Linked DNA regions of Homo sapiens: region 2 is linked to region 1. Evidence: fine-mapped expression QTL. A gene starts in region 1. The other region holds a variant in brackets. All regions are shown on one strand. Distances are from middle to middle.

What was found.
Region 2: its variant is fine-mapped to the expression of DNASE1 in whole blood (TOPMed, PIP 0.90).

What each region holds. Positions count from the first base shown.
Region 1 is chr16:3,648,654-3,664,332 of GRCh38, reverse strand. It overlaps DNASE1 (deoxyribonuclease 1), which reads right to left and starts at 9,642. Exons shown (of 9, transcript NM_005223.4): 1 at 9,289-9,642; 2 at 8,813-8,960; 3 at 8,396-8,484; 4 at 8,148-8,231; 5 at 7,580-7,695; 6 at 7,222-7,334; 7 at 6,992-7,146; 8 at 6,517-6,613; 9 at 6,238-6,427. The coding sequence starts at 8,959. The coding sequence ends at 6,380. TRAP1 (TNF receptor associated protein 1) reads left to right here. Exons shown (of 18, transcript NM_016292.3): 13 at 1-59; 14 at 771-909; 15 at 1,366-1,451; 16 at 2,201-2,346; 17 at 5,468-5,540; 18 at 6,103-6,296. The coding sequence ends at 6,204. LOC124903631 (a long non-coding RNA gene) reads left to right here and starts at 6,566. Exons shown (of 2, transcript XR_007064954.1): 1 at 6,566-6,636; 2 at 6,811-13,697. RefSeq lists enhancers at 8,410-8,937, 8,938-9,465.
Region 2 is chr16:3,605,897-3,621,575 of GRCh38, reverse strand. It overlaps SLX4 (SLX4 structure-specific endonuclease subunit), which reads left to right and starts at 9,970. Exons shown (of 15, transcript NM_032444.4): 1 at 9,970-10,016; 2 at 12,010-13,146; 3 at 14,878-15,102. The coding sequence starts at 12,612. It also overlaps a transcript of DNASE1 not described here. RefSeq lists an enhancer at 9,653-9,722 and a silencer at 9,763-10,112. The variant C/T (reference allele first, on the strand shown) is at 9,533.

The sequences.
Region 1 (15,679 bases):
ACCGTCACCTGGCAGAGCACTCACCCTACTATGAGGCCATGAAGAAGAAAGACACAGAGGTGGGTGAGCGGTGGGTGGGGCGGGCTCCGGGGGCTGCAACCTGGGGAGGGTCTTGACCTTCTCAGCTCTGTGCTGGGTGAACCTGCCCAAGACTCCGGGCAGGGCTGCACAGTGGGTCAGGGTCACGGGCACAGAGGCCGGACCGACTGTGACGGCTGTTTCCCACTTGGAGGTCACATGTGGTTTTTTTTGTTTGTTTTTTGTTTTTTTGAGATGGAGTCTTGCTCTCTCGCCCAGGCTAGAGTGCAGTGGTGCGATCTCGGCTCACTGCAACTTCCGCCTCCTGGGTTCAGGTCATTCTCCTGCCTCAGCCTCCTGAGTAGCTGGGACTACAGGTGCACACCACCACACCCAGCAAATTTTTGTATTTTTAATAGAGACGGCATTTCACCATGTTGGTCTCGAACTCCTGACCTCATGATCTGCCTGCTTTGGCCTCCCAAAGTGCTGGGATTACAGGCGTGAGCCACTGCACTCAGCCACATGTGGATTTCTTTATGCGTGGAGTGCTTCTGCCTTGAAGGCAGTCAGAGCCTTCCTTAGACCCAGGTGTCGTAGTAACTGTCATGCAGGCCTAGGAACCCCAACTGCCCCGGTGTTCCCCAGTGTGGCCCGCTTGGCTCCCCCAGCCCTCCTGCCGCCCTCATCCTTTCTTCTGTGGTGGCTGGAGGCCCCCGGGGTCTGATGGAGCTGCTCTTGGCCACCTGCAGGTTCTCTTCTGCTTTGAGCAGTTTGATGAGCTCACCCTGCTGCACCTTCGTGAGTTTGACAAGAAGAAGCTGATCTCTGTGGAGACGGACATAGTCGTGGATCACTACAAGGAGGAGAAGTTTGAGGACAGGTCCCCAGGTCGGCATCCCCTGCTCTCTAGGCGTGGGGCTGGTTTCCACTCCCCGCACGCCTCTCCTGCCCCGCAGCGAGGGCTTCCTTTGGGTTTTCGTCAGTTGACCTGGGCTCAGCCACCCCCGAGAAGAGCCTTGTGGGAGCACCCTGGTGACTGGAGGAAGGTGCCTCCTGGTTTAGATATCAGGGGTCTGTCCAGTGCTCCTGCCACGGTGGCTTCTGGAGCTGGCCCAGCTTCTTGAGAGGCTGTGTATTTTTTTAAAGCCCTAACCAAGTTGTATGGGCCTCAGGCAACCTGAAGCATCCTTTGAGGTTTTACTTTTAGATGAAAAGCATCTTGCTAGCTTGTGTCTCCATCCTGGTGGGAGAGGAGGTGGGAGCTGGAAGCATGCTGCGTGGCCCCCATGGAAGCCGGGGAGTTGGGATGCAGGCCTGAGCTCCCTGTCGCCTGCTCTTCCGCAGCCGCCGAGTGCCTATCAGAGAAGGAGACGGAGGAGCTCATGGCCTGGATGAGAAATGTGCTGGGGTCGCGTGTCACCAACGTGAAGGTGAGGCTTTCCCGGGGATGGACCACCACTTGGCCGCAGTGTCCCTAACAGGCTGGCCAGCTGGTGGCTCCCAGTACCTGGCCCGTTGGGTGTCCTTCCAGCAGCAGCAGAAGCCCTTGGTGTCAGGTGGAGACCCTGTGGGTCCCTGCTCGGCACGTGTTGCTCGGGAGTGCCGCTGAGGCAGGAAGGCCGTGTCTTTCTCCCAGCCCTGCTCCAGAGCAGGTGTGAACTGAGAACTGAAAAACCAGCATCCTGAGTGGGAGCTGCAATGGCTGAGGACGTGGGGGTTCCAAACAAGGGACATGCTACCCCAGCCCTCAGGAGCTCACATGCTCACTTGGGTGCTTAGTCGGGGGTTTTGGGTGGGCTTCAGAGAGCTAAGACTCCCCCCACCAACCTGTCTAGCTCAGAGTGAGAAATGAGCGTCCCATGCATGGTCACTTGGAGGAAGGGGCCTCATGCAGGGTGGGCTGGCATGGAGCAGAGGACGATGGATTCGGGCAGCTCCTGGAGGCAGCAGCGGGGCACCAGGGTGGTGGAGCCCCTCGGGCACAGTATCTTTGCGTGGGGCATCAGCTCAGGGCCCACAAGTTAGTGGGTAATGGGGAGGGAGCAGCGCTGGTCCAGGGGAGTCCTTGAGACCCCGCCTGCTACCTCGTGGTCTGGGTGACCTTCACCCCTGGTAAGATCCTGCCAGCCCTCTCACATTGGGAACCTCTATCACCCTCAACCCCGGGCTTTGCTCACAGGTGACCCTCCGACTGGACACCCACCCTGCCATGGTCACCGTGCTGGAGATGGGGGCTGCCCGCCACTTCCTGCGCATGCAGCAGCTGGCCAAGACCCAGGAGGAGCGCGCACAGCTCCTGCAGCCCACGCTGGAGATCAACCCCAGGTGAGGCCACGCTCCTGGCTCTTCCAGCCTGTGGGATTCCCCAGAATCCTGTGTGTGGTGTTCTTTTGTTGTGGAATGTGACACAGAAGAAAAGTGCGTGAGGCCTGTGGACATGTGGGTAACTATAAGGAGCTGTATGCAGTTTAGGCTGCACCCATGTGAAATGGAACCTGGCCAGCCCCTTACCATCCCCAGGTGTCACCTGGGAGGTTAGCCACATCCCAGCCTGTGACCATGTCCTCGTTTTGCTTTATGGCTTTGCCACCTGTGCGTGTCCTGGACATGCTCAGTTTTGCCTGTTTTGAGCTTTGTACGTGGATCTTGGTGTTTGCTGAAGTCTCACGTTGCTCACTTGGCATGAGGGTTGCCCATGCAGAGGGGCTGCCACAAGTTCATTTTCATAGCCGAATAATGTCCGCTGCAGAAACCCACCTCGGCACAGCAGACTGCTCCGTTCTGCTCTGCTGGGCCTCCGGTGGTTCTTGGTCAGAAGTTGTGGAGAGCCAGGCTGCTCTGAGTATTCTTGTCCACGTGTCTGGGGCTTGTGTGGGTTTCTCTGTGGCCCCGGTGGTGGGAGCTGCTTCCAGGGTGCACCGAGAACCCCCCAGCCCTGACAGTGGCTGAGCCGTAAGATTTCCCTCGTTTCTTCCTGTTGTTCTTTATATGCCCTTTATCTGTTGTAAATGTCTTTTCACCTGCCTTTAGGTATCTTTTGAGTTTCTTTCTTTTTACAGTATCACTTCTTTGCACCCATGAATGTGATCTATTTAGGTCTTTAACATCCTTTGGTACCTTACATTCTCTGTAGGGTTCTGGTACCATTTTTAAAGAATTATTCTTTGATGTGTCTTATGGGGTATTTTAAAATTTCATTTTCTAACTTGTATATGAACTAACTTGTATATGAAGTTTCTTTTTTGGGGGAAATTTTGAATGTAGCAATTTTTTAAAAAATGAAGTTACATAAACATGTTACCAAAAATAGAAAACAGCAAAAAGGAAATCAAAATCCATAGACTTACCACCCCCCCCACAATGTAGCCTAAGTAGTATTTTAATTTTTGAGACAGGGTCTCACTCTGTCCCCCAGGTTGGAGTGCAGTGGGGCAATCTCAGCTCACTGCAACTTCTACCTCCTGGCCTCAAACAATCCACCTGCCTTAGCCTCCCGAAGTGCTGGGATTACAAGTGTGGGCTACCACCCCCAGCCAGTTTTTGTTTTGTTCTTTAGTACATGTCTAGTTTTTTTCTTTTGTCATTTTACAACCATAACTTTTAAAATTATACTGGAGGCGAGGGAGATGCATCTTCCTAGCCATGGCACTCCTGGGGAAAGGCTGACTTGGCTTATGGCTGTCAGTGCACAGCAGCGCCAGTATGCAGAATGCCTGTGCCTCTGCTGGAGCAGCTCAGTGAGGCGGACACCAGGTCACTTTAACTAGTTTTGGTGGCAAACTAGTTTTGTGAGATAGCTGCAGAAGTGCTCGTTTCTGTCTGTTGCCACTTCACTTTTGGAGACAGGGTCTTGCTCTGTCACCTAGGCTGGAGTGTACCAGTGGCGCCATCAGAGCTCACTGCAGCCTTGGCCTCCCAAAGTGGTGGGATTACAGGCGAGAGCCACTGTGCCCAGCCAGCTTCACTTTCATTTGTTTTAAAATTTGGTGTTCTGTCCACATAGTTCAGAATTCAAAACTGCTTACAGGGGAAAATTTCCTCCTACCTGTGTCCCCAGTGCAGCCAGCATTAGGGCTTTTGTATTTCTGCAGAGATTATGTGCATTTGTGGGCAGCTGCGCCCGTGGGCTTCCAAGGGGGAACTTGCTGTGCAGTGGGTCCTTGCCTTGCTTTTCTCCCTTAGGGTAACTAGGTGACCTCCACATTAGCATATTAAGAATGTCCTTTTTTTCCAGCTACGTAGACTAGAAATGTGAGGATGTGCATTTGAAGTGTTTCCTCTGTTAGGTTGGGTGCGGTGCCTCACGCCTGTAATCCCAACATTTTGGGAGGCCTAGGCGGGTGGATCACTTGAGGTCAGGAGTTCGAGACCTCATCTCTACTAAAAATACAAAAACTAGCTGGGGGTGGTGGTGGGTGCCTGTAATCCCAGTTACTTGGGAGGCTGAGGCAAGAGAACCTCTTGAAACCAGGAGGCTGCGGTGAGCCAAGATCATGCCATTTCACTCTAGCTTGGGTGAAGGAGTGAGAGTCTATCTATCTATCTATCTATCTATCTATCTAAAAAAAAAAGTGTTTAAAGGGATGCAGTTAGGAAATGGAATGGCTGAGTCTCAGCATATCATCCACATGTGGTTTTCCCGACTCCAGTTGTCCTCTGGAGAGGTTGTACAAATTTACAGTTCCCCAGAGCCCTCGGTTTTATCAGACTTCTAAGTGAAAAATTATAATATTCATGTTAAGGTTAAATACTACATGATGCTTTTTCCTATGCAGAAAAAAATATTGTTCTGACGTCAAATATGTCAATCATTCTTTACTTTTTGGTTTGTGGTTTTGCTTGGAAAGGCTTTCCCCTTCTGAGATGATGAAACATTTCTTCCCTAGAATTGTGCTTGTCATCTTTGATCCCTCTGGAATTTACTCTGGTCTAAATGGTTTTCTGCATGGCTCCCAGTCATCCCAGTGCTGCTGGATGGAGTGATCTGTCTCCTCCCTCTTCTGTGAAATACTGTCCTCATCAGACACTCAGTGTCCACCCTCGTTACATGGAGTTGTTTGCCTTCCCCCTTTCCAGACCTAAACTGTTTTATTTACTAGAGCCCTATAATATGTTTCAACATGTGGGTCTTACTCCCTTCTCTTTTATTATTTATCTAGGAACCAAGGCATGTCTTCACGTACTAAGCTCCTTTTGTCCCTTTAGTGTATATTAATCTTGGAGTTTGGCTACCTTACAGCATTTTCTAATACTGACACTCCTGATTCTCTTGGGTTTTCTGGGTATATAATGATATTATCTATAAATGATCATTAACATACCTTATTTAAAAAACTACAGACAGTCTTACTGTGCTTCTTTAAATATCCTGATAATCCCAAAACATGAAGGGAGGGTCACAGCACGTGGTACTGAGCTGCTTTTTCTGGTGGGTTCTGTGTTGCAGGCACGCGCTCATCAAGAAGCTGAATCAGCTGCGCGCAAGCGAGCCTGGCCTGGCTCAGCTGCTGGTGGATCAGGTGAGTGCAGCAGCTTAGGATGACTGCAGGGACCCAGGCTACCAGCCCTGCCAGCCTGCCTTCAGGGTGGAACAGCGGTTTCCTCTAAAATCCTGTCTTTTTGTTTGTTTGTTTGTTTTTTGAGATGGAGTGTTGCTCTGTTGCCAGGCTGGAGTGCAGTGGCGCGATCTTGGCTCACTACAACCTCTGCCTCCCGGGTTCAAGCAATTCCCCTGCCTCAGCCTCCCGAGTAGCTGGGACTACAGGCATGCGCCTGGCTAATTTTGTATTTTAGTAGAGATGGGGTTTTCACCATCTTGGCCAGGATGGTCTCAATCTCCTGACCTCGTGAGCCACCGTGCCCAGCCAAATTCTGTTTTAAAAACGGAAAAATGGCCAGGCGTGGTGGCTCACGCCTGTAATCCCAGCACTTTGGGAGGCGGGGGGATCACCTGAGGTTGCAGTGAGCCGAGATCGTGCCTCTGCACTCCAGCCTCGGCAACAGTGAGACTCTGTCTCAAAAAAAAAAAAATGAAAAGGTGCCCCATGCCCCTCATAATGGGTTTCTCCTCTTGCCTTTCAGATATACGAGAACGCCATGATTGCTGCTGGACTTGTTGACGACCCTAGGGCCATGGTGGGCCGCTTGAATGAGCTGCTTGTCAAGGCCCTGGAGCGACACTGACAGCCAGGGGGCCAGAAGGACTGACACCACAGATGACAGCCCCACCTCCTTGAGCTTTATTTACCTAAATTTAAAGGTATTTCTTAACCCGAGTGTGTGTTGGGCTTTTTTTCTGGGTCCTGTGGCAGGATGGGTCCTCTCTTCCTGCAGTTCAACTGGTGTGGGGAGGGGCTGCTCACTTCAGCATCACCTCCACTGGATAGTGGTCACTGATGGCTTGGGCCTGCAGGCAAGTGGGCACAGGGTCTGGGCTGAGCCTACCTGAGCTCCTGTGTCCCATCCTCATGTGGCTGTGCAAGGGAGGACACATACCAGTTGGTCACTCAGGCCATAGGCAGCCTGGAAGTTAAAGGGAAGAGCCGAGTCGGGAACAACGGCGCCTCGGAGCAGCATCCCTGCAACCACGATCCTGATGGGTGTTGGGAAGAGAAAGTAGGTTCCCCTTTCACACATGGGCCTGGCTCAGCACCCGCAGGAACTAAACTAAGAGCCCTGGGACCTGCCAGTGCAGGTCTGTGGGTGCCCAAAACTGCACACCCTGGTCTGTGCCCCTCAATGTGGAAACCACATGACAGCCTAGGTGTCTGCCTCTCCTCTTATCCCCAGATGTGCTTTTCCGAAAAAACCTAAAAATCGTGGCTCTTGTTATTCTGTTCCCTGTAGTGGATCAACTGAAGCTCAGTTGGGTGAGTGTTCAAAGGCTTTGAGGCTTCTGAAGCCCGACCTATGAGTCACGGCTGCCCTTGGAGGTGCCCTCAGTCTGCCCTAAGCGCGAGGCCCTGCTCACCTGTCATAGGCACAGTGCGTGGGTGTAGCTGTGGTGTCAGCGCTGTCGGGGATCAGCCACTGGAAGGTGGGGCTTGTCCACAGGCGGATGGATGACCACTGGGAGGGTCTCACATAGCTGCAGCCCGCATTGAAGTCGCCCATCAACATGACGTCCTACCAGGAAACGCTGCCTGTGGCCCTGGGACATGCGGAGGCCGCTGGTGCCCACTGCCCCTGGGAGGGCCTCACCTCCAAGCCCCATTTCTCTTGGACATCCAGGTAGACGTCATAGAGAGCGTCGATCTCGGCTACTGCGTCCCCCGGGGCCGCATGCAGGGGAACAATGGCAAACTCCCTGACCTCTGTGGAGACAGCCACGTCGTGTGAGGCACACTCCCTGGGGGCAGGTTCAGTCACCATGTCAGCTGGAACTATGTATCATGACAGTCCCCCCGGGGGGTGGATATTTTCCAAATGACTTGAATGGAAAACCCAAGCCCCAGGGACTGGGAGGGCAGTGTGTGACACAGGCATTCCAGGTTCCCTAGGAGGGGGTGGAGGCCATAAGCGCCAAGCCGAGCCCCACCCTGGCCCAGGCAGCACCCACCTGTGAACCGGGAGAAGAACCTGACAATGGCTGGCTCTCGGTTGAAGGTGTCGTTCCCGCAGGGCTCGCAGCCATCATCGTAGTAGTAGCTGTCCACCGCAGACACCTGGTCAGGCCTGCGGGAAGGCCGGGCAGGAGGAGGTGACCCCAGGCTGGAAGCTGCCCCACTCCTGCTTCCCAGGAGGCAGGCGTCGCGTCCCAGGCGACAGGAGGGCGGGGGAGCCAGGCACCTGCTCAACCCATTGGTCCGGGACCCAGGCGACAGGAGGGCGGGGGAGCCAGGCACCTGCTCAACCCATTGGTCCGGGACCCAGGCGACAGGAGGGCGGGGGAGCCAGGCACCTGCTCAACCCATTGGTCCGGGACCCAGGCGACAGGAGGGCGGGGGAGCCAGGCACCTGCTCAACCCATTGGTCCGGGACCTTGGGGTGTTTTCACTCCACCCTGGACCCTGCTCTGAAGCCTCAGGTTCTTGCCATAGGACAAACTAATAGGACAAACTACTTCCCTGCTCTGTTGGGGCCCTCCCAGGTGAGGGAGGGGCTTCCTGGCTTTCTAGACCACCCACCTGTACACGAACAGGTAGCGCTCCTTATAGCTGTTCCGTCCCAGTGGCTCACTGACCACGTAGTGATAGGTGTCTGGTGCATCCCTGGATTGAAGAAACAAAAGGTCCCAGTGGCGGGGGCCATAGGGGACCCCTCTGGCTGCCGATAGCGAGGCTGTGCCCAGGTCCCCACCCTTGGGGCCCAAGTGAAGTGAGGCTGTGCCGTGGACGAGATGTCACCTTCCTATGACCCTGCCACTGTCACCCACTGATTGAGGTTGTCCAGCAGCTTCCCCACGGCAGTCAGGTGGCTGTCTCTGACCTCCTGGACCAGGGCGATGTCATAGCGGCTCAGGATCTGGGGGCAGGGCCACAGTGGTGCTGAGCAGGGCTGGTGCCACCCAGGGACCCTACAGCGCCACAAAGGGAGCCACAGCTGATGCTCGTGGCATTGCTCGGTTTAACCGCAGCCTCATGTTTCTGCCTGGGCTCCTGCTGCCAGCCAGGGACAGCACAGCAGGGATGAGGACCTTGGTCCACAGCCAAGAGCCTGTTCCACCGTGCTGGGAGCAGTGGTGCTCAGTACCCCACACCCGACACCCTGTGGCTCCATAGGGCTGGCCCTGCCCACCAGCCCTAGACTCCAGAGCTCCTCTGCTTTTGGGGGGAGGCTGCCCTGGCCTCACCTGCACAATGTAGCTGACGAGGGTGGCATTGGACATCTTGGTCTCCCCAAATGTCTGGATGTTGAAGGCTGCGATCTTCAGGGACACGGCCCCCTGCAGTAGGGCCGCCAGTGCCAGCAGCGCCCCCAGCAGCTTCATGCCCCTCATCCTGGGAGAGCACAGGGCACAGAGACATAACAGAAGTGAGACGTCATCCCTGCCACAGCACTCCAGCCTTCTGGAGCCCAGCTGGCAGGGGCTGGTGGAGCTCAAGGTCAGGGGGACGCAGGCGGGGGAAACCCTTTCCTACAACGTCCAGAAAGCCAAACAGCTGGCACCACGTAGAGGACCCCGAGTCACTCCTCCATCCACCAGAAAACCCGCCCGGGAGGGACGCTGGAGCCTCCGCCTCACTCGCTGCTGGAGGATGAGACTCTAAGCCTCCCTCCCTGCTCCAAACCGGCCAGTCACCCAGAGGCACTCCACCTGGTGCTCACCTGAGATGATGGTGATGTCCTCAGAGATGACGAGAATGCTGTCAAGAATCTGGAATATCCTTTGATGACAATTTTCTCCTTTTGCTGCTTAAAGAAAAAAAAGTAGTCTATGAAGAAAGGTCTCTGAAGAAGCACTTCAAGGCCCTGGCAGTGCTGCTGGGCTCCGGATCCTGCACAGGCAGTGCGTGTCTGGGAGTTTTAAAAGTTCAGGCAGCTGTGACCTTCCCTGGGGCAAATGTGAGCCGTCACCTGAGAGTGCAGAAAACAATGGCTCTGTGTGGCTTTCCGCATAGGTGGGTTGCTAGCACGTGTTTCTTTCTGTAAGCACAGGTTTCTTGCTGCTGTAAAAACTGCACCTGATAATCACGTTTGCACTTAGTTTTAAAATGTCTGATAACAAGGCCAAAGGTTCCTATCCCGTGTCCCTTGCACGTGTGGTGGCCCCCATCTTCCAGGATAGGGCAGGGATGGGCCAGGTATGTGCGGGAGGGTGGGGCTGGGCTCCAGTCTCCCTGTCTCTTGTCTGGGGGCCCCAAGGTCACTTTGGACAAAGAGGCCAAAGCCACATCCAAAGTTGCAAATGGAGCCCCCTGGTGGCTGACAGCCATGACTGCTCTGTGGCCCAGGACACGCCTGCCTTCCTGATTCATCGCCATCAGGTGCAGGCAACTCTGCAGGAGGCTGGGGAGCTCGGAACAAGCAGTGGTGGGGGCCTGCAGCACCAGCGCCGTGGGGCCAGGACAGGTGGGGCCTGCAAAGCCCACCCCAATTGCCAGCCAAGCAGTGGGGAGCCTTCTTGAGGTAGACAATAGGCTGTGTGTTTAGGCCCAGGGGATCCCGAGTGACCAGGTCACAAGGGCAGGGCAGCAGCTAAAGGCCAGGCCTCAGGTCCAGTAATTTCTTGGTTCTTTTGTTTTGGGTTTTTATTGTTTTTGAGACAGGGTCTCACACTGTGTTGCCAAGGCTGGAGTGCAGTGGCACAATCATGGCTCATTATAGCCTCAACCGCCAGGGCTCAGATAATCCTCCCTCCTCAGCCTCCTGAGTAGCTAAGACTATGGGTACGGCACCATGCCTGGCTAATTTTTAAATTTTTTTGGTAGAGATGGGGTCTTGCTCTTTTGTCCAGACTGGTCTTGAACTCCTGGCTTCAGGCAATCCTCCGGCGTAGCCAGGACCACAGGTGCATGCTACCATGCTCAGTTTTTTTTTTTTTTTTTTTTTTTTTTTTTTTTTTTGAGGCGGAATCTTGCTCTGCTGCCCAGCCTGGAGTGCAGTAATACTATCTCGGCTCACTGCAACCTCTGCTTCCTGGGTTCAAGCAATTCTTCTGCCTCAGCCTCCCGAGTAGCTGGGATTACAGGCACGCACCACCACACCCGGCTAATTTTTGTATTTTTAGTAGAGACAGGGTTTCACCATGTTGGTCACACTGGTCTCAAACTCGTGACCTTGTGATCCGCCTGCCTCGGCCTCCCAAAGTGCTGGGATTACAGGCGTGAGCCATCGCACCCAGCCTATTTTTTAAGTTTCTCACAGACACAAGGTCTCCAAGTCCTGAGCCCAAGCAATCTTCCCGCAAATGCTGGGATTACAAGTGTGAGCCACCGCACCCCGCCACTCATTTCTTGGAATCTTTGACTTTCCATTCGTATTCATTTCCTGAGACTGGTGAAACTACCACAAGTTTGGTTGCTTAAAATAACAGAAATGGATCCTCTCAAAATTCCGGAGACTGGACGTCTGAAGTCAGGGAGTCAGTAGGACCTTGCGCCTCCTGGAGGCTCCGGGCGGTTGGGGGATGCTCCTTGCCCTCCAGTTTCTGCAGGCTGCCAGCAATCCTTGGCTTTCCTTAGTTGTGGCTGCATCACCCCAGTCTCTGCCTCTTCTTCTTAAGATCTGTGCACCTGCATTTGGGGTCCTCCCAGAGAGCAGGGAGGATGTCCTTATCTCAACAGCCTTTACTCACATCTGCAAGTCCTTTTTTGCTACAAAAATCAACATTCAGAGGTTCCAGGGCTAGGGCACAGCTATCTTTTGAGCCACCCCTGGGTCTTGCCCACTTGGAAGGGGCTGTGCTGGCCCTCCAAGGACAGCCCTGCACGTAGCATCTGTGGTCCCCCTGGGGGAGGAGGGCCTGGAAGGCTTGGCAGAAGTCCAGGCGGGATTCAGGTATGAGAACTGCAGGAAATGAATACAAATGGGGTCTGCAGGAGGCCTCAACGGCAAGAGTCAGCAGGGGCCAAGGTCGAAAGTCAGGAAAGTGCTCGGTCTGGCCAGCTGGCCATGAAGCAGAAGGCAGGCCCAGTGGGGACTAGAAACAGGAAGGTAAACCACCCTCCACAAGACTGGCACCCCATTCCATAAAGACACGCCAACAGACGCCTCTGGCTGGCAGCACTGGTGCACTCATCTGTCCCTCCTATTGAGACGGCGTCTACCAGATGGAAACACCACCACTCCTCAGGCTGCCAGAGGCCCCATTGCAGGCTTTTCCAAAGGTTTCAGCAATGGTTCTTCCCTGTTTTTAATCTCTAAGTCTAGGACAGCCTCCAGCACGTCAAAACCCAGCCCCCAAGCAAGGCCACCGGAGTATTCGGTGTAGGGACTAGTCCTCTGCCTTTGGTGTTTGCCTTTCCTGGACACACATCTGACAGCGACCCATCACGGGGAAGGGAGTAAAGCTAGAGGGCGGCCACTGTCCTCCACCAAGAAACTGCCTGGTGCAGCTTCCGGCGGGGCACAGGGACACCAATTATAGCTCACAGAGCAAGTGCCCAACCCCCTACGTGTGCTCAGCACGTGGGACGAGGGTTCCCCTCTGGTCTGTCATCCCCTCCTGGCTCTTGACCAAATGCTGCCCCATCTGCTTTCAGGAACTCCCAGGCATAGTGCCCCTGCTTCCTCTACCTGCCAGAAGGAAGGCTGGAACTTGGGCCTCGCTTGTACAAATGGCGAGTGCTGCCTGCTGTGTGGCTGCCCTCAGGACGGGCTTTGGTGAGGGCAGCACAGCCCTGGAGGAGCCTGGTCTGACATGGGGCCCGTCTGGGATCACTGTTGGGCCTTCAACCGTCTGGAGCCTCTATGTCTTCCTCTGATAGATTCCCAGAACAATCATTTCACCTTCTAAGAAGCCATCCTGCCCCTGCAGCCTGTGGCTTGTGGAGTCTCCAGCACTCTCACTTCTCCCTCGTGGATCTCTTTTCTGTCTGTGTCAGTCAATGCTGCCATGTAACAGCCACCTGCAAACTCAGTGTATACACATGCATTTCTCTCACACTGCCAGGTCTGCTGGGGTGGCTCTGCTGCCTGGGCCTCGTCCTGGGGCTGGGCTGGAGAGACTGCAGCTCCCTGGGCACCCTCTTCCCACAGTGTGGAAGGTGGAGGCTCCCAGGGCACAAGCAGAACACGTGCCGCCCTAAGGCCAAGGCGGAGCTGGCTGCTGTCGCTTCTGCCCACATTCCATGGGTGCTGTCGAGCTGTAGGTCCAAGCCCCACATCAGGGGAGTGAGTGGGGTACAATCCTCCCATGCTGGGCCCCACTCTGGAGATAGGCCTGGGGAATGCCCAAGAAGGAAGCCCAGCCCTTCTGGGATTTTCACATCCACAGAGAATGGGTGCTGGCAGCCAACGGCAACGAGGAGAAAAGCTGACCGCCTTCTCAGATCAGGATGAGGTGTTTTTACACCAACCCCGAGGATCTGCAGCCTTCTCAGGTTAAATTAAACCTGTCACAGACACAGGAAGGGAAAAGAGCACATAACAACAATTATATTGACATCTAAGCCAGGTCACATGCTCTGATTTGGCTGAAATTACAGGATAAAGGAAAAATCCTATAGGCACCATGGCTGGAAACAAATGGCCTCAAAGGAACGCTGGTGGCCGTGGCTTTGTGCAACGACAGCCAGTGTTGTGTGACCCAGCGACGTGCAGGCCAGGGAGGGTACCCTTCTACTGATCAAGAGGGAAAGCGGGAAGGACGCACAGCTGTGGTTTCCAACCTGCACGGAGGCACCCCCATGAACTCACAGAGCACCATCAGATCCTTCTGAATTTTGAAGGAAGCAATGATACTCTGCTCTGCTCAAGGCCATTCATGGTCTCAACATTAACGTTACCTTGCTTTATAGGGTATCTTCCCTCTCTCTGCCAGGCTGGGTTGTGGCAGTCACTGAACAAGCAATTACTGTGAAGGTCGACGTGGAAAAATGAGGCAATGAGGGTGGCGGTGTTCTACCAGATTCCAAGTTGAAGAGGTGCTCGACAGGCACACACATCCCATGACTAAACAAATAACATGAACATTTCTCTTTATGTATTACTTTTCTAGACATCCACTATAAGTTGCCAGGACACAAATGCTTATTATTGGGGTTTACTTATTTAATAAATGGAACTGTGGGGGATTTCTTTTTCTTTTCTTTTTTTTTTTTTTTTTGAATGACCATATAATCTGGACTTACTAACTTTAGGTAACAGTAAGTTAAAAGATAGAATAAGGTTTCATATTACAGGAATTCAAAAATTGACCATATAATAAATGATGAAGAAAACTAACAATAAACAGGACAATGTTCAAATAGCTCATTGGGGCCAAAAGATCAGCGTATATCCTGCATCATCTTTCATGCAATGTCTCAGCTTTTTTTCCCTCAAACATAAAGGCAGATTAATACAAATTAGCCTTATTTAGAATATTCATTTACGTTTCCTTCTGAAATTGATACTTGAGTGGAAGATGTATTAATAACTCGTGGTTTCTACTGAAATTTAAGATTCCACCAGATGATGCTCAGATTTAGACGATGCTAGAGTAAGACACTACTGGGTGATGATTTCAAAGTATGAGCTGCAGGTAAAATCTAAAAGGACATACATAATAACAAATGTTTTCTAATTTAAAAGACATATAGTAAATATCCATGAATTAACTCACACAACCTACTTACAAACAAAACTAGAATAAACAAAACTTGTAGGAACCAACTCCAGTTGATTTCGCCACTTAGCGGGAGCAAGTTCTCAGGCGGGTCATTTTATTTAAGGATGACTTGAAATTTTACAAGACCACCTTAGCTCCCACATACGAAAACTCTTTAAGAATTTTTTTTTTATCAACTAGAAGTTGGGGAAAACACACCGAGAAATAAAATGATACAGCTCCTCACACATTTGAAGGCCCATGTCATGCCTAAATTTCTACCGATTTAACTTAAGAAGCTCCTCGCCCTGAGAGATTCCTTTATCCCACAACACTTGACTCAGATGGGGCAGAGGGTCCCAGGACACTACCCAGGCCACAAGATAAAAACACAACCTGTCTCCTCCGGCACCACTATCAGGGATTTCTTTTGGCTTACTATTAAAATAATTATTGAACCTTAATCAAGAGTGCTCTCAACTGAGAAAGTGTGAAGCTTCTGATCTGACATAATGCATATGCCTGAGTTAGATTTCCTACTTTACTGAATATAACTTCTTTTCTATCCTTCATCATTCACCACTGCTTCAACGTTCTGTCACAAAGAAATTCTCAGTTCTACAAATTGCTACTGAAAAGAATAATTGCAACAGATTAAACATATCACTGTGTTTCAATACATAAGTTCATGTTGACATAAAATAATTATCAGCCACCTTAGGGGGATGCTAGGAACTCAACTTGTTCTTCTGCAAAAAGGCAAATAAAGTCAAAGGATCAAGGCGGTATTCTGCCTTTCCTATGCAAAAAGGACTGCCCAGTAACCCATAGCTCGAGAAGGCTCTCTTTAGATAGGTGGACTCCAGCTAATACACGAGGAAGGAATGCTAGACCTGAAAGTCACCATTTTGCCGTCCCTAATCTCAGCCCTGATGTAGTGGCTGCTAACATCACAAAAGACAGCCTCTGTCCCTTCTAATCCAAGACCACACACAGCAGCACTTAGGAGAGTTCTTGCCAAAACAATCTTGAATCTGATCAAACCTCTAGATCTAAATGACAACTTAAAGCAAATACAAGGACAGAGGCTCACGTTCAACAGCACCATGGGGACACGGTACGACCCAGACTGGGAAATCGTAGATGGCAAAGGACAGGCTCATCAATAGATTTCAAAATGAAAAGAAGAAGAGAGGCAGAACTCATAGGTTAAAAAAAGTTCACATTTTGAGATGGATGTTAAATGATAATAAAACTTGAGATATATCCATAAACAAAATGTATGGACCTTAGATCCTATAAAACATCCAATCTTTTATTCATGCAAACAGACATTTGTGTAACAAATTATGTAAGAGGCAATCAGGGAAAGCAGAACACTGACCCATAACTGGGAAGTATTAATAGTAAACTCTTAAGTTTGTAATGGCTCTTATTGGTCCTTATGTTTTGTTTTTAAAGAAATTA
Region 2 (15,679 bases), 43 kb after region 1:
ACATTGGGGAAAAGCAGGGATATATATTTATATTTGTATGTGCACAGAATTATCTGGAATATTTCAAGAAGCCTCTGATGAGGGAGTTTGGAGGTCAGGGGGCCAGAAGTAGGAGGGAATTTTTGTACCCTTCTGAAGCTCCTGGACAAAAAAAATTAACAATGTACAGGTATTCTTTTCTAAAACAGGTAAACCAGGCAAGAGCAATGGCTCATACCTGTAAACCCAGCACTTTTGGAGGCAGGAGGATCACCAGAGGCTAAGAGTTTAAGATCAGCCTGGGCAAGATAGCAAGACCCCATATCTACAAAAATTTTTAAAAGTCAGTTGGGTGTGGTGGCACACGCTTGTACTCTTGGCTACTCGGGATACTGAGGCAGGAGGATTGTCTGAGCCCAAGAGTTCGAGTCTATGCTCGTGCCACTGCATTCTAGCATGGATGACAGCAAAACCCTGTCTCTAAAAAAAATATAAAATAGGCCGGGCACAGTGGCTCACACCTGTAATCCCAGCACTTTGGGAGGCTGAGGCGGGTGGATCACGAGGTCAGGAGTTCAAGATCAGCCTGGTCAATATGGTGAAACCCCGTCTCTACTAAAAATACAAAAATTAACCAGGTGTGGTGCAGGCGCCTGTAATCCCAGCTACTCCGGAGGCTGAGGCAGGAGAATCGCTTGAACCTGGGGAGCGGAGGTTGCAGTGAGCCGGCATTGCGCCACTGCACTCCAGCCTGGGTGACAGAGTAAGACTCTGTCTCAAAATAAATAATAAACTTTTTAAAAAAAAAAATCAGGCAAACCAAACAAAACACACATACCCTTTAGCCTAGAAATCCTAGATTTAGGACTCCTTCCAAAAGAAATAAAAACACACACATACAGGTTATAAGTACAAAGACATTTATTGCATAATCTATAATGATAAAAACTATAAATATATCTTTATCAACAGGGGAATGTTTGATTAAATATGGAATATAATATGGCTTCCTATCTACTGACTTAGAGAAATGCTCATGATGCAATATGCATAGTATAATTACTTTTTTTTTTTTTTTGAGACAGGGTCTCACTCTGTCACCCAGGCTAAAGTAGAGTGGCATGATCACAGCTCACTGCAGCCTCGAAGTTACAGTGAGCTATGATCAGGCCACGCTGCACTCCAGCCTGGGTGACACACTGAGTACTCTGTCTCTAAATAAATAAATAAAAGGTTTCTTTACTAATTATACGAAGCCTTTTGATCTCTGAAATGCTTGTTACCCAGTCACGTGACTAAATGATGTGATGAATGATGTGACTCAATGAATGTAATGTGGTAAATATGACATGTAAACTTTTTAAAAGAAAAGCCATACACAGGCCTGGCGAGGTGGCTCATGCCTGTAATCCCAGCGCTTTGGGAAGCCGATGCGGGTGGATCACTTGAGGTCAGGAGTTCAACACCAGCCTGGCCAACATGGTGAAACCTCATCTCTACTAAAAATACAAAAATTGGCCAGGCGTGATGGCGCATGCCCGTAGTCCCAGCTACTCAGGAGGCTGAGGCAAGAGAATCACTTGAACCCCGGAGGCGGGGGTTGCAGTGAGGCGAGATTATGCCACTGCACTCCAGCCTAGGTGACAGAGCAAGACTCTGTCTCAAAAAAAAAAAAAAAAGAAAAGCCATACATATGAATTTTCGTTATATTTATAACCAATCTGCTGACTCGATGAAATATTTAGTAGAGCTGTAAATGGAAATTAGAATTTTTAAAAATACTGAGGGCCAGGCGTGGTGGCTCACACCTATAATCCCAGCACTTTGGGAGGCCAAGGCAGGAGAACCACTTGAGCCCAGGAATTTGAGATCATCCTGGGCAACATAGCAAGACCTGTGTCTACAAAAAAAATTTTTTTTTTAATTACCTACAGGCGGCCAGGCACAGTGGCTCATGCCTGTAATCCCAGCACTTTGGGAGGCCGAGGTGGGCAGATCACAAGGTCCGCAGATAGAGACCATCCTGGCTAACACGGTGAAACCCTGTCTCTACTAAAAATACAAAAATGGAGCTAGGCGTGGTGGCGGGAGCCTGTAGCCCCAGCTACTCGGGAGGCTGAGGCAGGAGAATGGCATGCAACTGGGAGGCAGAGCTTGCAGTAAGCTGAGATCACACCACTGCACTTCGGCCTGGGCGACAGAGCGAGACTCTGTCTCCAAAAAAAAATAAAAAATAAAAGAAAGAAAGAAAATTACCCACAGGCCAGGCATTGTGGCTCATGCCTGTAATCCCAGCACTTTGGGAGGCCAAGGTGGGCAGATCACTTGAGCGCAGGAGTTTGAGATCAGCCTGGGCAACATGGCAAAACCCTTTCTCTACTAAAAATACAAAAAATTAGCCAGGTGTGGTTTTACATGCCTGCAGTCCCAGCTACTAGGGAGGCTGAGGCAGGAGGATCACTTGAGCCTGGGATGTGGAGGTTGCAGTGAGCTGAGATTGCCCCACTGCACTCCATTCTGGATGATAGAGTGTAACCCCGTCTCAAAAAAAAAAAAATTACCCAGGGGCCCTTCTAGCTCTAGCTACAGGTAGGCTGAGTCAGGAAGATAAGGAAGTTGGGAAGATCAGAAAGATCACTTGATCCCTGGCAGTCTGAGGCTGCCATGAGTCATGATTGTGCCACTGTACTCGAGCCTGGGCAACAGAAATGAGACCTTGTCACTAAAAAAAAATTACAAAACGGAAATAAGCAAATGTTCAGTGTAACATGTATTCCATTCTATACTACATTTTGTTCATTCATGCACTGAAGGGCATTTAGACTGAATATGAGGTGTACACGTTTTTGTTTGAGCATTTCTTCTTTTTGACGGAGTTTCATTCTTGTTGCCCAGGCTGGAGTGCAATGGCACCATCTCAGCTCACCATAAACTCTGCCTCCCAGGTTCAAGTGATTCTCCTGCCTCAGCCTCCCGAGTAGTTGGGATTCAGGCACCCACCACCAAGCCCGGCTAATTTTTATAGTTTTAGTAGAGACGGGGTTTCACCATATTGGCCAAGCTGGTCTCAAACTCCTGACCAGAGGTAATCCGCCCGCCTTGGCCTCCCAAAGTGCTGGGATTACGGGCGTGAGCCACCGCGCCTGGCCCTTAAACACTTTTTCAATTTTTTGGGACATATCCTTAGAAGCGGAATTGCTGAATCATATGATGATTTTATCTTTAACTTGTTCAGGAACCTCAAACTGTTTCCCACAGCAGCTGTACCATTTTACATTCCCTCCAGCAATGTATCAGAGTTCTAACTTCCTTACATCCTCACCAATACTTTTTTTTTTTTTTTTTTAGGAAATGGCTGTCCTACTGGCCATGAAGTGGTATCTCACTGCAGTTTCAATTTGCACTTCTCTAACGATTCATGATGCTGATCATCTTTTCATGTGCTTGTTGGCACCTGCCACTCTTTGGAATGTCTATTCAAGTCCTATGTCCATTTTTTTTTTTTTTTTTTGGTCTTGGCTTCTTCACAGGACAAGTTCTACCATGCCCATTTTCTGAGTTGTCTTTTCATTGAGTTGTAAAAGTTCTTTCTATATTGTGCTACTAGAATGTCTTAGTCCATTTGGGCTGCTCTTACAAAATACCACAGACTGGGTAGCTAATAAACAACAGAAATTCTCACTGTTCTGGAGGCTGGGAAGTCCAAGATCAAGGTGTTGGCAGACTCTGTCTGGTGAAGGCCCACTTCCTCTAATGGCAGAAAGGGTAGGGGGTTTCTCTCTTGGGCCTCTTTTCTTTTTTTAAAAAAATTTTTGTAAAAATGGAGTCTCACCTTGCTGCCCAGGCTGGTCTCAAACTCCTGGGCCCAAGCAATCCTCCCGCCTCCGCCTTCCAAAGTGCTGGGATTACCGGCATGAGCCACCACACATGGCCACAAGGGCCTCCATCCTTATCCTTATGCACTAATCCCATCACCTTGCGGTTGAGGCCTTCACATATGAATTGGGTGGGGGGAGACATAAACATTTAGACAGCAGCATAGATTCTTATCAGGTATATGATTAACAAATATCTCCCATTCTGTGGGTTGTCTTCTCATTTTCTTGATAGTATACTTTTACACAAAAAAGTTTTTAATTTTGATTAAATCCAATTCATTATTTTTTGTTGTTTCTGCTTTTAGTGTCATATCTAGAGTCTACTGCCAACTCCAAGGTCATAAAGATTTACCCTTGTAGTATTCTTTTTTTTTTTTTTTTTTTTTTTTTTTGAGATGGAGTTTCGCTCTTGTTGACTAGGCTGGAGCGTAGTGGTGCGATCTCGGCTCACCGCAACCTCCATCTCCCGGGTTCAAGCGATTCTCCTGCCTCAGCCTCCCGAGTAGCTGGGATTACGGGCGCACACCACCACGCCCTGCTAATTTTGTATTTTTAGTACAGACGGGGTTTCTCCACGTTGGTCAGGCTGGTCTCAAACTCCTGACCTCTGGTGATGCCAAAAGTGCTGGGATTACAGGGGTGAGCCACCACGCCCAGCCTACCCTTGTATTCTTCTAAGAGTTTTATAGTTTTCACTCTTCCATTGGGTCTTTGATCCATTCTGAGTTAATATTTGTACATGATATGAGGTAAGGGTCTAACTTCATTCTTTTGCATGTGATATCCTGTTATCCCAGCTCCATTTGTGGAAGACACTACTCTTTCACCATTGACTAGTCTTGGCATCCCGGACAAAATCAATTGCTCATAAATATAAGGGTTTATTTCTAGACTCTCAATTCTCTTCCACTGACCCATATGTCTATCCTTATGCTGGTACAGTACCACACAGTCTTGATTACTATAGCTTGTAATAAGTTTTGATATAAGGAAGTACGTTCTTGAAAAAGAACAAAGTGGCTATTTGGGTTTTGGGTATTAAGAGCCCCTTGCAATTACATATGAATTTATTTATTTATTTATTTAATTTATTTATTTGAGACACAGTCTCACTGTATCACCCAGGCTGGAGTGCAGTGTTGTGATCTTGGATCACTGCAACCTCCATCTCCTGGGTTCAAGGGATTCTCCCGCCTCAGCCTTCCAAGTAGCTGGGATTACAGGTACCTGCCACCACATCCGGCTAATTTTTATATTTTTAGTAGACATGGGGTTTCACCATGTTGGTCAGGCTGGTCTCGAACTCCTGACCTCAAGTGATCTGCCTGACTCAGACTCCCAAAATGCCGGGATTACAGGCGTGAGCCACCGCACCCGGCCAATTCCATATGAATTTTAACATCGGTTTTTCCACTTCTGCAAAAAAATTAAAACGTTGTTGGGATTTTGATAGGGATTATGCTGGTAGATGCTTTGGGGGGAGTTTTGCTGTCTGAAACCTCCCTTAAATTTGTCTAGCAGAACATATAGAGCAAAATCACACAAAGGCAGCAGTGGCAGGCAGCACACTGAAAGAAATGCAGTGTAACTCATCTCGAATAACTTTTGTATACTTATACACGTAAAAACAGTTATTTCCTGTCCTGATTTCACCAATTTTAGCAGTCTAGAAAATGTGACTATACAACAGTAAATAAAAGTTAACATGATCAAAGAACTCAGGAGACAATTCTTTCCTTGTTCAATCTGCTGTCTCCCCAACCCCTGTCAAGATAAAGGAGAGGGAGGTGGACAGGTTATGGCTTTACCATTTATAATCAAACCACAGACCTGGGATAAGGGCCCTTCAATTCATCCTCCCAACTGTTTAAAACATGAACTCAGTGGAAGATGCCAGAAGCTTTCAAAAAGGAAATATTCCAGGAGGGTAAGGACGTGATCATCACAGCATCTTCAACCTTTGCCTTTTTGCCCTGAACCCAAAAATTACCGACTCCTATGAACTGGGAAAACAGCACATCTATTTGGAATAACACAGTTTTTTCATGTACTTCTGCATCCATTTTCTCTTTCAGATAAACCCTGTAAGGTTTACCAAACACAAGGACTGTCTGCACCTTTTAGTATCTGACATCTTCTTTCATCTCCCTGGTTGTTCTGACAGTGCAGTGGGTTTCCGCCTCAAATGCTGACAGGGAACACACAATACTGTTCCTACTGAAATAACATCCATCTAGTAACACTGTTTCTGAACACTGCCCCTCAACTTAGTCATACTGGGTGACTTCTAACTAACAGCATGAACCCCAGGGCTTCTGCTGGAGTAACAGTCACAATAGGGTCCAGGACAAGGTGGCTGCCATTGTTCACCTTTAGCCCAAAGAAGCAGGTGCCCCAGTTATGGATGGCTTTGTTCATTGAAGGGAGGAATTATGTATAATTGGAAATCCCATGCACCACCCTGACCCAGCTCTTGCCATCTCTCTTATACTTAGCCTACAGTGTTTGTTCAGTTGGTGCTGGTTAAATGCAGTGCTTCTCAATCTTGAGACCATCAGAATCATCTGTGAAACTTTCAAAAGACACAGGTTGAAAGATTTATTCAGTAGGCCTAAGAGTAGTGTCCCAGCCTTTCCAATTAAAAAAAAAAAATTCCACAGGTGATTCAGTTGAGAATCTCAGGTTTAAGAAAACTCTCTTTTCTAAACCACACTTCAACTAATTTATTTTATGTAAATAAATAATATAGCCAGATTTGGGGTTGGGGGAGAGAGGTAGCAAAGACTTTCTTCACCAGGACTCTAAGAGATTTAAATCCTAAATAGGAAACAGGCACTTCATTTTCAGTCTGACTGGAAAACAGTAATTTCTACCATTACAATTATCCTTCATAACCCAGCCATGTCCATGTTTATTAGATGTTTAAAAAAATTTTCTGTATCCTATGATATTTTGAAATCTTAATAAATCTTGCTGGCAGGGAGACTGCCTCTCCCAGGTCTAATTCCTCAAGACAGTAAACAACTTACTTGGGAGCATGCCTCTCACAGGCAAGTCAGCCTCCCCCCTTTATCTAACTCTCACACACCAAGCCAGTATTTCTCCTGCCCTAAATCATCCATGGCCAGGTACCAAGCAACTAGAGACCACCCAAAGGCAAAGCGTGATGGAATTATTTAAATTATCCAATCCTAAAATGTTTACTCCGCCCTGACTTGCTATTTCTGAGGAACCCCATAAAGGTTCTGGCCTAGACTTTCTCCTTGTTCCTATTTCTTCCTCCTAACCAAAAGCTGATGTCTCCCTTGTGGCTCTGAACGTGGTGGCACGCCTCCTTTTCTTGAGAAATGTAAGTAAATTATTTCAGGCCAGGCGCGGTGGCTCACACCAGTAATCCCAGCCCTTTGGGAGGTCCAGGCAGGAAGATCGCCCGCCTGATGTCAGGAGTTTGAGACCAGCCTGGCCAACATGGTGAAACCCCGTCTCTACTAGAAATACAAAAAATTACGCCGGGCGCGGTGGCTCACACCTGTAATCCCAGCACTCTGGGAGGCCAAGGCGGGCAGATCACGAGGTCAGGAAATCGAGACCATCCTGGCTAATATGGTGAAACCCCGTCTCTACTAAAAATACAAAAAATTAGCCAGGTGTGGTGGCGGGCGCCTGTAGTCCCAGGTATTCGGGAGACTGCGGCAGGAGAATGGCGTGAACCCGGGAAGCAGAGCTTGCAGTGAGCCGAGATCACACCACTGCATTCCAGCCTGGGCAACAGAGCGAGATTTTGTCCAAAAAAAAAAAAAAAAAAAAAAATTAGCCAGGCGCGGTTGCGGGCGCCTGTAATCCCAGCTACTCCGGAGGCTGAGGCAGGAGAATCGCTTGAACCAGGGAAGTGGAGGTTGCACACACCACTGCGCTCCAGCCTGGGCAACAAGAGCCAAACTCCGTCGAAAACGAAGCAAGGAAGGGAAGGAAGGAAAGAGAAATTATTTCAACAGCACTGGCCTCTCCATGTCGTCACTCAGTCTCCTCTATAAATTCAAGTCCCAAGACACCCTGCCCTACCCTTGCCTCTGGGCTGCTTATCATTCTTGTTCTGTCTTCTTTATCCAGTTGGAAACCATATTACAAACTAACTTAGATTTCCAAGCCAGAGAGCAAGTAAACACCTCCTAAATCCTTCATCAAGGAAAACCTCTTGGAAGGTTTTGAAGCTCAACATTCAGAATCAAATGTAGTCTTACCCAGTAATTCCACTCCTAGAACACAAAAACTTGTGTTATGAACACGAATGTTCATAGCAGCATTATTTCTAACAGCCAAAAAGTAAAAACATCCATATGCCCATCACCTGATACATGGATAAACAAAACATGGTCCATCCAAACACGTGATTATGCAGCCATGAAAAGGCATGCAGTACTGATTCATCTACATGGATGAAATCTTGAAAACATGCTTAATAAAAGCCCAGCAGAAAAAGCCAAGTATCACATGATCCCATTTACATAAAATGTACTGAATACGCAAAACCACAGAGACAGAAAGCCGATAAGTGATTGCCAGGGGATGGGGTCGGGGGAATTGCGGAGTGACTACGAATGGGTACGGCAGGTTCGATTTGGGGTTTTAAAACGTTCTGGAATTAGCGACGATGGCTGCAAATCCTGTGAACGTACTGGAAACCACTGAATGTACACTTCTAGTGTGCATTTTATGATACTGTATCTTTTAAAAAACATATTGTCTGCCCTGCAAACTGATTCCTTTACACCTCTCCTGTGTTCATTATTTCAGTGACTGGAGGCACACTACTCTCAGATGTTAAGGCCAGAAACCGGCAAATCGTTAACAACTGCGTCTTGACTATGCTCCATATTTCTCCATTCTTTTCGCTCCACCTCCTAATTCGGGCCGCTCTCACTTTTCATCTAGATTATGTAATAGCCTCCTAATGGGTGTCCTTGCCTCATCTGTTCTCACTGTAATTAGGCCTTTAAAAACAAAATCTTACGCCGGGCGTGGTGGCTCACGCCTGTAATCTCAGCGCTTTGGGAGGCCGAGGCGGGAGGATCTCTTGCGGCCAGGGCTCGAGACCAGCCTGGGCAACATAGTGAGACTCCCCCCCCCGCCCCCACCGCCCGTCTCTACTTAAAAAAAAAAAAAAAAAAAGCCGTGAGCGGTGGCTCACGCCTGTAATCCCACCACTTTGGGAGGCCGAGGCGGGCGGATCACCTGAGGTCAGGAGTTGGAGACCAGCCTGGGCAACAGAGTGAAACCTAGTCTCTACTAAAAACACAAAAATTAGCTGGGCGTGGTGACTGGCGCCTGTAATCCCAGCTACTTGGGAAGGTGAGGCACAAGAACCGCTCGAACCCGGGAGACAGAGGTTGCAGTGAGCCGAGATCGCGCCACTGCACCCCAGCCTGGGCAACAAGAGCAAAACCCCGTCTCAAAAAACAAACAACAAAAAACCTTCAATGGCTCCCGACGACCCCAAGTTGAAGCTCAAACCCTTAATACGATGTGTAAAGTCCCTCAAATACCAAGCCATGGCAAACCTCTGCTACCTTTCCCCCAGGCCCTGGCTGGCTTCACCCTAGCCCTGCGGAAGAGCTCGGGCATCCCCTCCAGGCACCTGAAGCGCGGCAGAATCCCCTCTTCACGTAGCTAACCCT[C/T]CCCGACCTCCAGGCCTCGACTCTCACGCCACCCCACCTGAGAGGAAGCTTCTCGGGCCCCCAGGCCAGATTTGGTGCCTCTCCCGGTCCCCCTCACACCGTCCACTCTCCGCTCCACAGGCAGGTATGCCCAGAGGGGGCCGCCGTTGTATCCGCGAACATTTCCTGAGCCAGCTGGGGAGGAACCAGACTTTATCTCACAGCTGCCACAGTGCCTTAAACTCGCCCTAACTCTTTCTCAAAAACTAACAGACTCCACCTGAAGCAAGCGCCGCTTCCGCCTCGCCCCGCCTCCTGCCGACCGGAAGCGCTGGCCGCCGCGGGCCCGCGCCCGGCGCCGCAGAGGAAGACCGGAAGCGAGGCTGCCGCACCACCGCGCGCGCCCGCTCTGCGCCTGCGCGCAGGCAATGCTCCGCGGGGGCGCGGGCGGCGCATGCGCAGGCGCGCGAGTCTCCGTTAAGAAGGTGCCGCGGCGGCGCCGGAGGTAGGAGGAGCCGGGCTGTGGGGCTGGGAGTCGGCACCCGGGAGGCGGAGGTCCTGTCATTTCGGGCCGTTCTCTCTTTCCTAAGGGAGAAGAGCCTTTCTCGCCCGTCTCCCTCGCTGGCTCCGTGGCCTCGGCAGGCCCGCAGCCCCGACGGAGAGGCAGGAGCCGCACTCGGGTGGAGAGGGGCCGGGGCCCGCCTGGAGGGAGGAGGGTGGCGGATCCGGATCCCCACGGTGGTCTCCGTCCGGGCCAGTCCGGGGATCGGGGTTCTCCGTCTGACTTTAGAGCCGTTAGAGTCTTTGGCAGCCCTTTTCCCAGACGGGGAACCCCTCAGCCCCTTTCCGTAGGTCGCCGGGTTGGGGGAAGCGGGAGGGTCCGCCCCTTACCGATCCATTCATTCATCCCTCGCCTGCTGTGAGCCGTGGGCTGCGGTAGGTACGAAGCAAGGAGGCACAAGTCCCCTTCCCTCTGGAAACCTGCAGGCTTGCAGGATCCGTTATGTCATTCAGTAAATCTTGACTGGGCACCTATAGGAGGAGATAGACTGTTGTGAGGTTCATATCAACAGAGATGCGGAGATCAACACAGTTGTGGAGGTGGAATTTGTTCCAGCCGCTCCCCGCATCCAACAGGATAAAATTCACTTTGCCTAGCCTGACCTTCCAGGCCCTTGTGAGCCAATCCTTTCCTCTCCCCGCAGCGTTTTCTCCTACACCTTTCTCTCTACTCCCATTATACCGAACTCTTTGCAATTCATGAATTCAACAAGTAGTTGTGGAGCACTTATTTCAAGTCAGGCACCAGATCAGCCAAAGAGGTTGCAAAGTAATAGATGGATCTCTACCCTCCTGAAGTGTTGAGCTTAATGGGGGACAGATAATAAGCCGATGAATAAAAACACAAGAGCGGATAGTTTCGAACCACACTTCCTGGGTTTGATCCCAGCCCTGCCACTGTGAAAGCTGTTCCTGAACTGGCTTTAGGCCAGTTCCTCATTCTGCTTGCGCGTGTTTCCTTGCCGTAAAGACAGGATGACAAGAGATTCCACCATATAGGCTTCTTGTAAGGATTAAACGAGTTTGACTTGGAAAGCAATTGGAACAGTGCTTGGCACACAGTAAGCATTCGATAGATATTACCTGTTTCATATGATGATAACCTATGACAGATGCCATTGTGAAAACAGTGGGCGATGATAGGGATTAACGGGGATGGAGACGGTCCATAAAGGATTAGAGGACACTTCTCTAAGGGGAAGACACAGAAGAGAATGCGCCAGCCATACAAAGTAGATTCTAGGTAGGAGTATTTTCAGCTCTGGAAAACAAAATGATTAATTAGATTCCTTGGACAGTGGAGATTGCATTATTGTATTTGAAAGGAATAACTTTCTGCCATTGGGTCATTCAGTTTTGATTTTTGAACCCCACTTAGCTGTGTGCCAAAGTAAACAACCATGCTCACGAGGCCCAGCCTTTGCACACAGGCGACATTCCAGTCATCCAGGTTTGGAGAGCCTTGCTGGGTTGAGAAGATAAGTAAAAGTGACCTTTTCTCTCCTGAGTGTTCATGAGAATATAATGTCTCTTTCTGTCTCTTATGTTGCAGTATTTACAGAAAGAGCCTCTTTAACAGCCAGGGGTCTTAGATCAGTGTAGGAGATAGTTTTCCTAGATTTGGGGATCATCCTGTTTCTGTGGTGACTGCCTTTTATGGGGTTTGCTCCCTAAATTTCAGTTAAGAAAACACTCTCCCAAGATGCACATATTTTAATACCTGTGGAAGAACAACATGCTTTGACAGGTTTCTAGGTCCTTTTGTTGTGATGTCTGATAGGACGGTTAGACCATGTTAACCAGGCTGGACTGAGTATTTGACAGTATTGTTACTCCGAAGACTTTTCCCTCACCCCACATGCCCTTGTCCCTCCCTGGAAGAACTGGCATAAAATGACAATGTCTGATTACACTTACATGCTTTTGGTTTTCCACAGATGTGTAATTAAGTGAACCATATATGTTTCATCATCATGGAGATCTTGGAGAATTATCTGAGCACCAGGTTCATATGTATTCGATCTCAGAGGCATCTATTGGACAACAAAACACTCTTTCAGTTGTGAACTTTATTTATTTATTATTATTATTTTTTGAGACAGAGTTTTGCTCTTGTTGCCCAGGTTAGAGTGCAGTGGCACGATCTCGGCTCACTGCAATCTCCGCCTCCCAGGTTCAAGCGATTCTCTTGCCTCTGCCTCCCGAGTAGCTGGGATTACAGGCATCTGCTACCACGCCTGGCCAATTTTTTGTATTTTCAGTTGAAACGAGGTTTCACCATATTGGCCAGGCTGGTCTCGAACTTCTGACCTCAGGTGATCCACCCCCCGCCTCGTCCTCCAAAAGAGCTGGGATTACAAGTGTGAGCCACCGCGCCCGGCCCAGTTGTGGACTTTAACAGAGGGAAGCTTTAAACATGTTTAACCACAGGCCCAATTTGAACAAAGATACTTCAATCATTATAGAGAGGAAAACAGTACTTTTTGTTCAATTGTGCAAACTCTCCAAGTATCTAATGGAGAAGTAGAGAAGAACCCTAATGAAACTGAGTGTGAATGAGGCTCAGCTAGGCTTCTACTTGGGTTCACTTTCTCATCTGTCTGCCTGTCCTGGGATTGACCCTCGCTCCTCTGAAGACCAGCCTGAAAGCCTTAAAACTGGTCAGATGATGGATGAGTCTGATGAGGACTTTAAAGAACTCTGCGCTAGCTTTTTCCAAAGGGTGAAAAAACATGGAATCAAGGAAGTGTCAGGAGAAAGGAAGACACAAAAGGCTGCCTCAAACGGCACTCAGATAAGAAGCAAATTGAAAAGGACCAAACAAACTGCTACCAAGACCAAAACCCTTCAAGGCCCTGCAGAGAAGAAACCTCCGTCTGGCAGCCAGGCCCCTAGGACTAAAAAGCAAAGGGTAACCAAATGGCAAGCAAGTGAACCGGCCCACTCTGTGAATGGGGAGGGGGGTGTGCTTGCCTCTGCTCCAGATCCACCTGTGCTCCGGGAAACAGCACAAAACACCCAGACGGGTAACCAGCAAGAACCATCGCCAAACCTTTCCAGAGAGAAAACCAGAGGTAATTTGTACTCTTTTAAACCAGGGGCTGGAAAACTTCCTGGAAAGGGCCAGATCGTAAATATTTTGGCTTTGTAGGCCACACAGACTCTGTCACAACTACTCAACTCTGCTGTCATAGTGAGAAAGCAGGCGTGGACAATATGTAAATGAACAGGCATGGCCATATGCCAGTAAAACTTTATTTACAAAAACAGGCAGCCAGCCACATGACCGTAGTTTGCTAACTTTTGGTTTGTTTTTATTTTTTAATTTTTAAGCTTAAAAAAAAATTTAGAGCTGGAGGTCTCACTATGTTGCCCAGGCTGGTCTTGAACTCCTGGACTCAAGCAATCCTCGTGCCTCAGCCTCTCAGAGTGCTGGGATTACAGGCGTAAGCCACTGCGCCCGGCTGACTCCTGGTTTAAACAACAGTCAAGAAAAACATAACCCGTGTGAATTTTTCACATGATTGTGTTTGGAGTCCTCTGCTCTTTCAGAATTTCCTATGAAATTCTGTTATATGATTGACATGAGTTACACAAACAACACAATAATGCTGCTTCTCTTGTTTTCTTGAATTTATTCCAAAGTGGGTAAGTTGGACTGGGCCAGCCAATTTGGATAGGCTGCTGAGAGGGCCGCATGAGGACTCTGTGTGGGCTCAAGTCCCAGGAGAATCTTCAGGTTCTTTCTTTCTCTCTCTGAAGACCTTTTAATCTTTTCCTTTGTTATTGTTATTGATTTATTTACTTACTTAGTTTTTAGAGACAGGATCTTGGTCTCTCACCCAGGCTGGAGTGCAGTGGTGCTATCATAGCTTACTGCAGCCTTGACCTCCCAGGTTCAAGCAGTCCTCCCTGCCTCAGCCTCCCGAGTAGCTGGGACCACAGGCACCCACCACCGTGCCTGGATAATTTTTTAACTGTTTAAAGCAGTTTTCTTGCCCTGCTGCCCTTGGTATACTGAGCTATATGCTTACTACACATTCTTCATGCAAAACTGAAAACTACCCTTGCATATATAATACACCATGGGCTCTCTGAGCTCCTGAGTTCTGTTTCTAAATTTCCTTTGCCCTCACTTCCTGATCTTAATAACCTCTCAGTAGAGTGGTGGTAGAGTCTCAGGTCGCATAGACTACTGGAAGGCATCAGCAGTGTTGCCTCACCAACTTTACTGGTCTCTCGTGCTCTTTGCCAGTCGGATGAAATCTATGCATGGTTCCCCCAAAACACGTATCCATGCGCGTATCTGCAAAACTGGCACACAACTTCATGGGGTTCATGGATCCCCACTGAAGATCATCCGTGGATCCCAAGTTAAAGAAGAACTGATCTAGGACATAAACCTTTGTCATTAATATTTCTTTAATAATAGCTTTATTGGGGTATAATTGATATTCCATAAAATTCACCATTTAAAAGGGTATGGTTCAGTGGTTTTTAGTATATTCACAGACTTGTCCAACCACCACCACTACCTAACGTTAGAACAGTTTTATCATCCTAAAAATAAACCCCATGCTCATTAGCAGTCACATCCCATTCCCCTCCTGTTATTGATATTTATGTCTATATTGCCATAAACAAAGAGGTTACCAACAAGCAACCAGTCCTCTTCACATTTGTGAGTCAAACCTAAACTAGTTGATAAAGGACTCTTGAAACTTGCGTCTAACCTGTATCTGGTAGAAAAGTCTTTTATTTCTCCAGCTACAACAGATGGTTGTGAATATTTTCCTCCTTGCCAGAGAATGTGCCCAACAGCGACTCCCAGCCTCCTCCTTCCTGTTTGACAACAGCAGTGCCAAGTCCCTCCAAACCCCGCACAGCACAATTGGTCCTACAGCGAATGCAGCAGTTCAAGAGAGCAGACCCCGAGCGTTTGAGACACGCTTCAGAAGAGTGCTCCCTCGAGGCTGCGCGGGAAGAAAATGTCCCAAAGGATCCTCAAGAGGAGATGATGGCGGGGAATGGTATGATGAGTGTGTTTCTGTCTTCCACACAGAGATAAGTTAATACAACTCTGAGGAAGGGAGGCGGGAAGGAATCAGCATTTGTTGAGTTTCTTCTGTGGATAGGCTCTCTGCTTGATGTTTTACCTTTGCCACTTCACTGGATCCAGCCAGAGAATGAAGAGTCTCTGGGATCATTTCCCACCTAGCTTCCTTGATAAGGTACCGTTTTGTTTTTTTTTCTGAGACAGAGCCTTGCTCTGTCACCCAGGCTGGAGTGCAGTGACATGATCTCAGCTCACTGCAACCTCCGCCTCCCAGGTTCAAGCAATTATCTTGCCCCAGCCAGTGGGATTACAGACGTGTGCCACCACACCTGGCCAATTTTTGTATTTTTAGTAGAGACAGGGTTTCGCCAAGTTGGCCAGGCTGGTCTCGAACTCCTGACCTCAAGTGATCTGCCTACCTCAGCTCCCCAAAGTGCTGGGATTACAGGCGTGAACCATTGCACCTGGCCCTCTTCCTTTTTTTTTTTTTTTTTTTTTTTTGAGATGGAGTCTCGCTCCGTCACCCAGGCTGGAGTGCAGTGGCACGATAT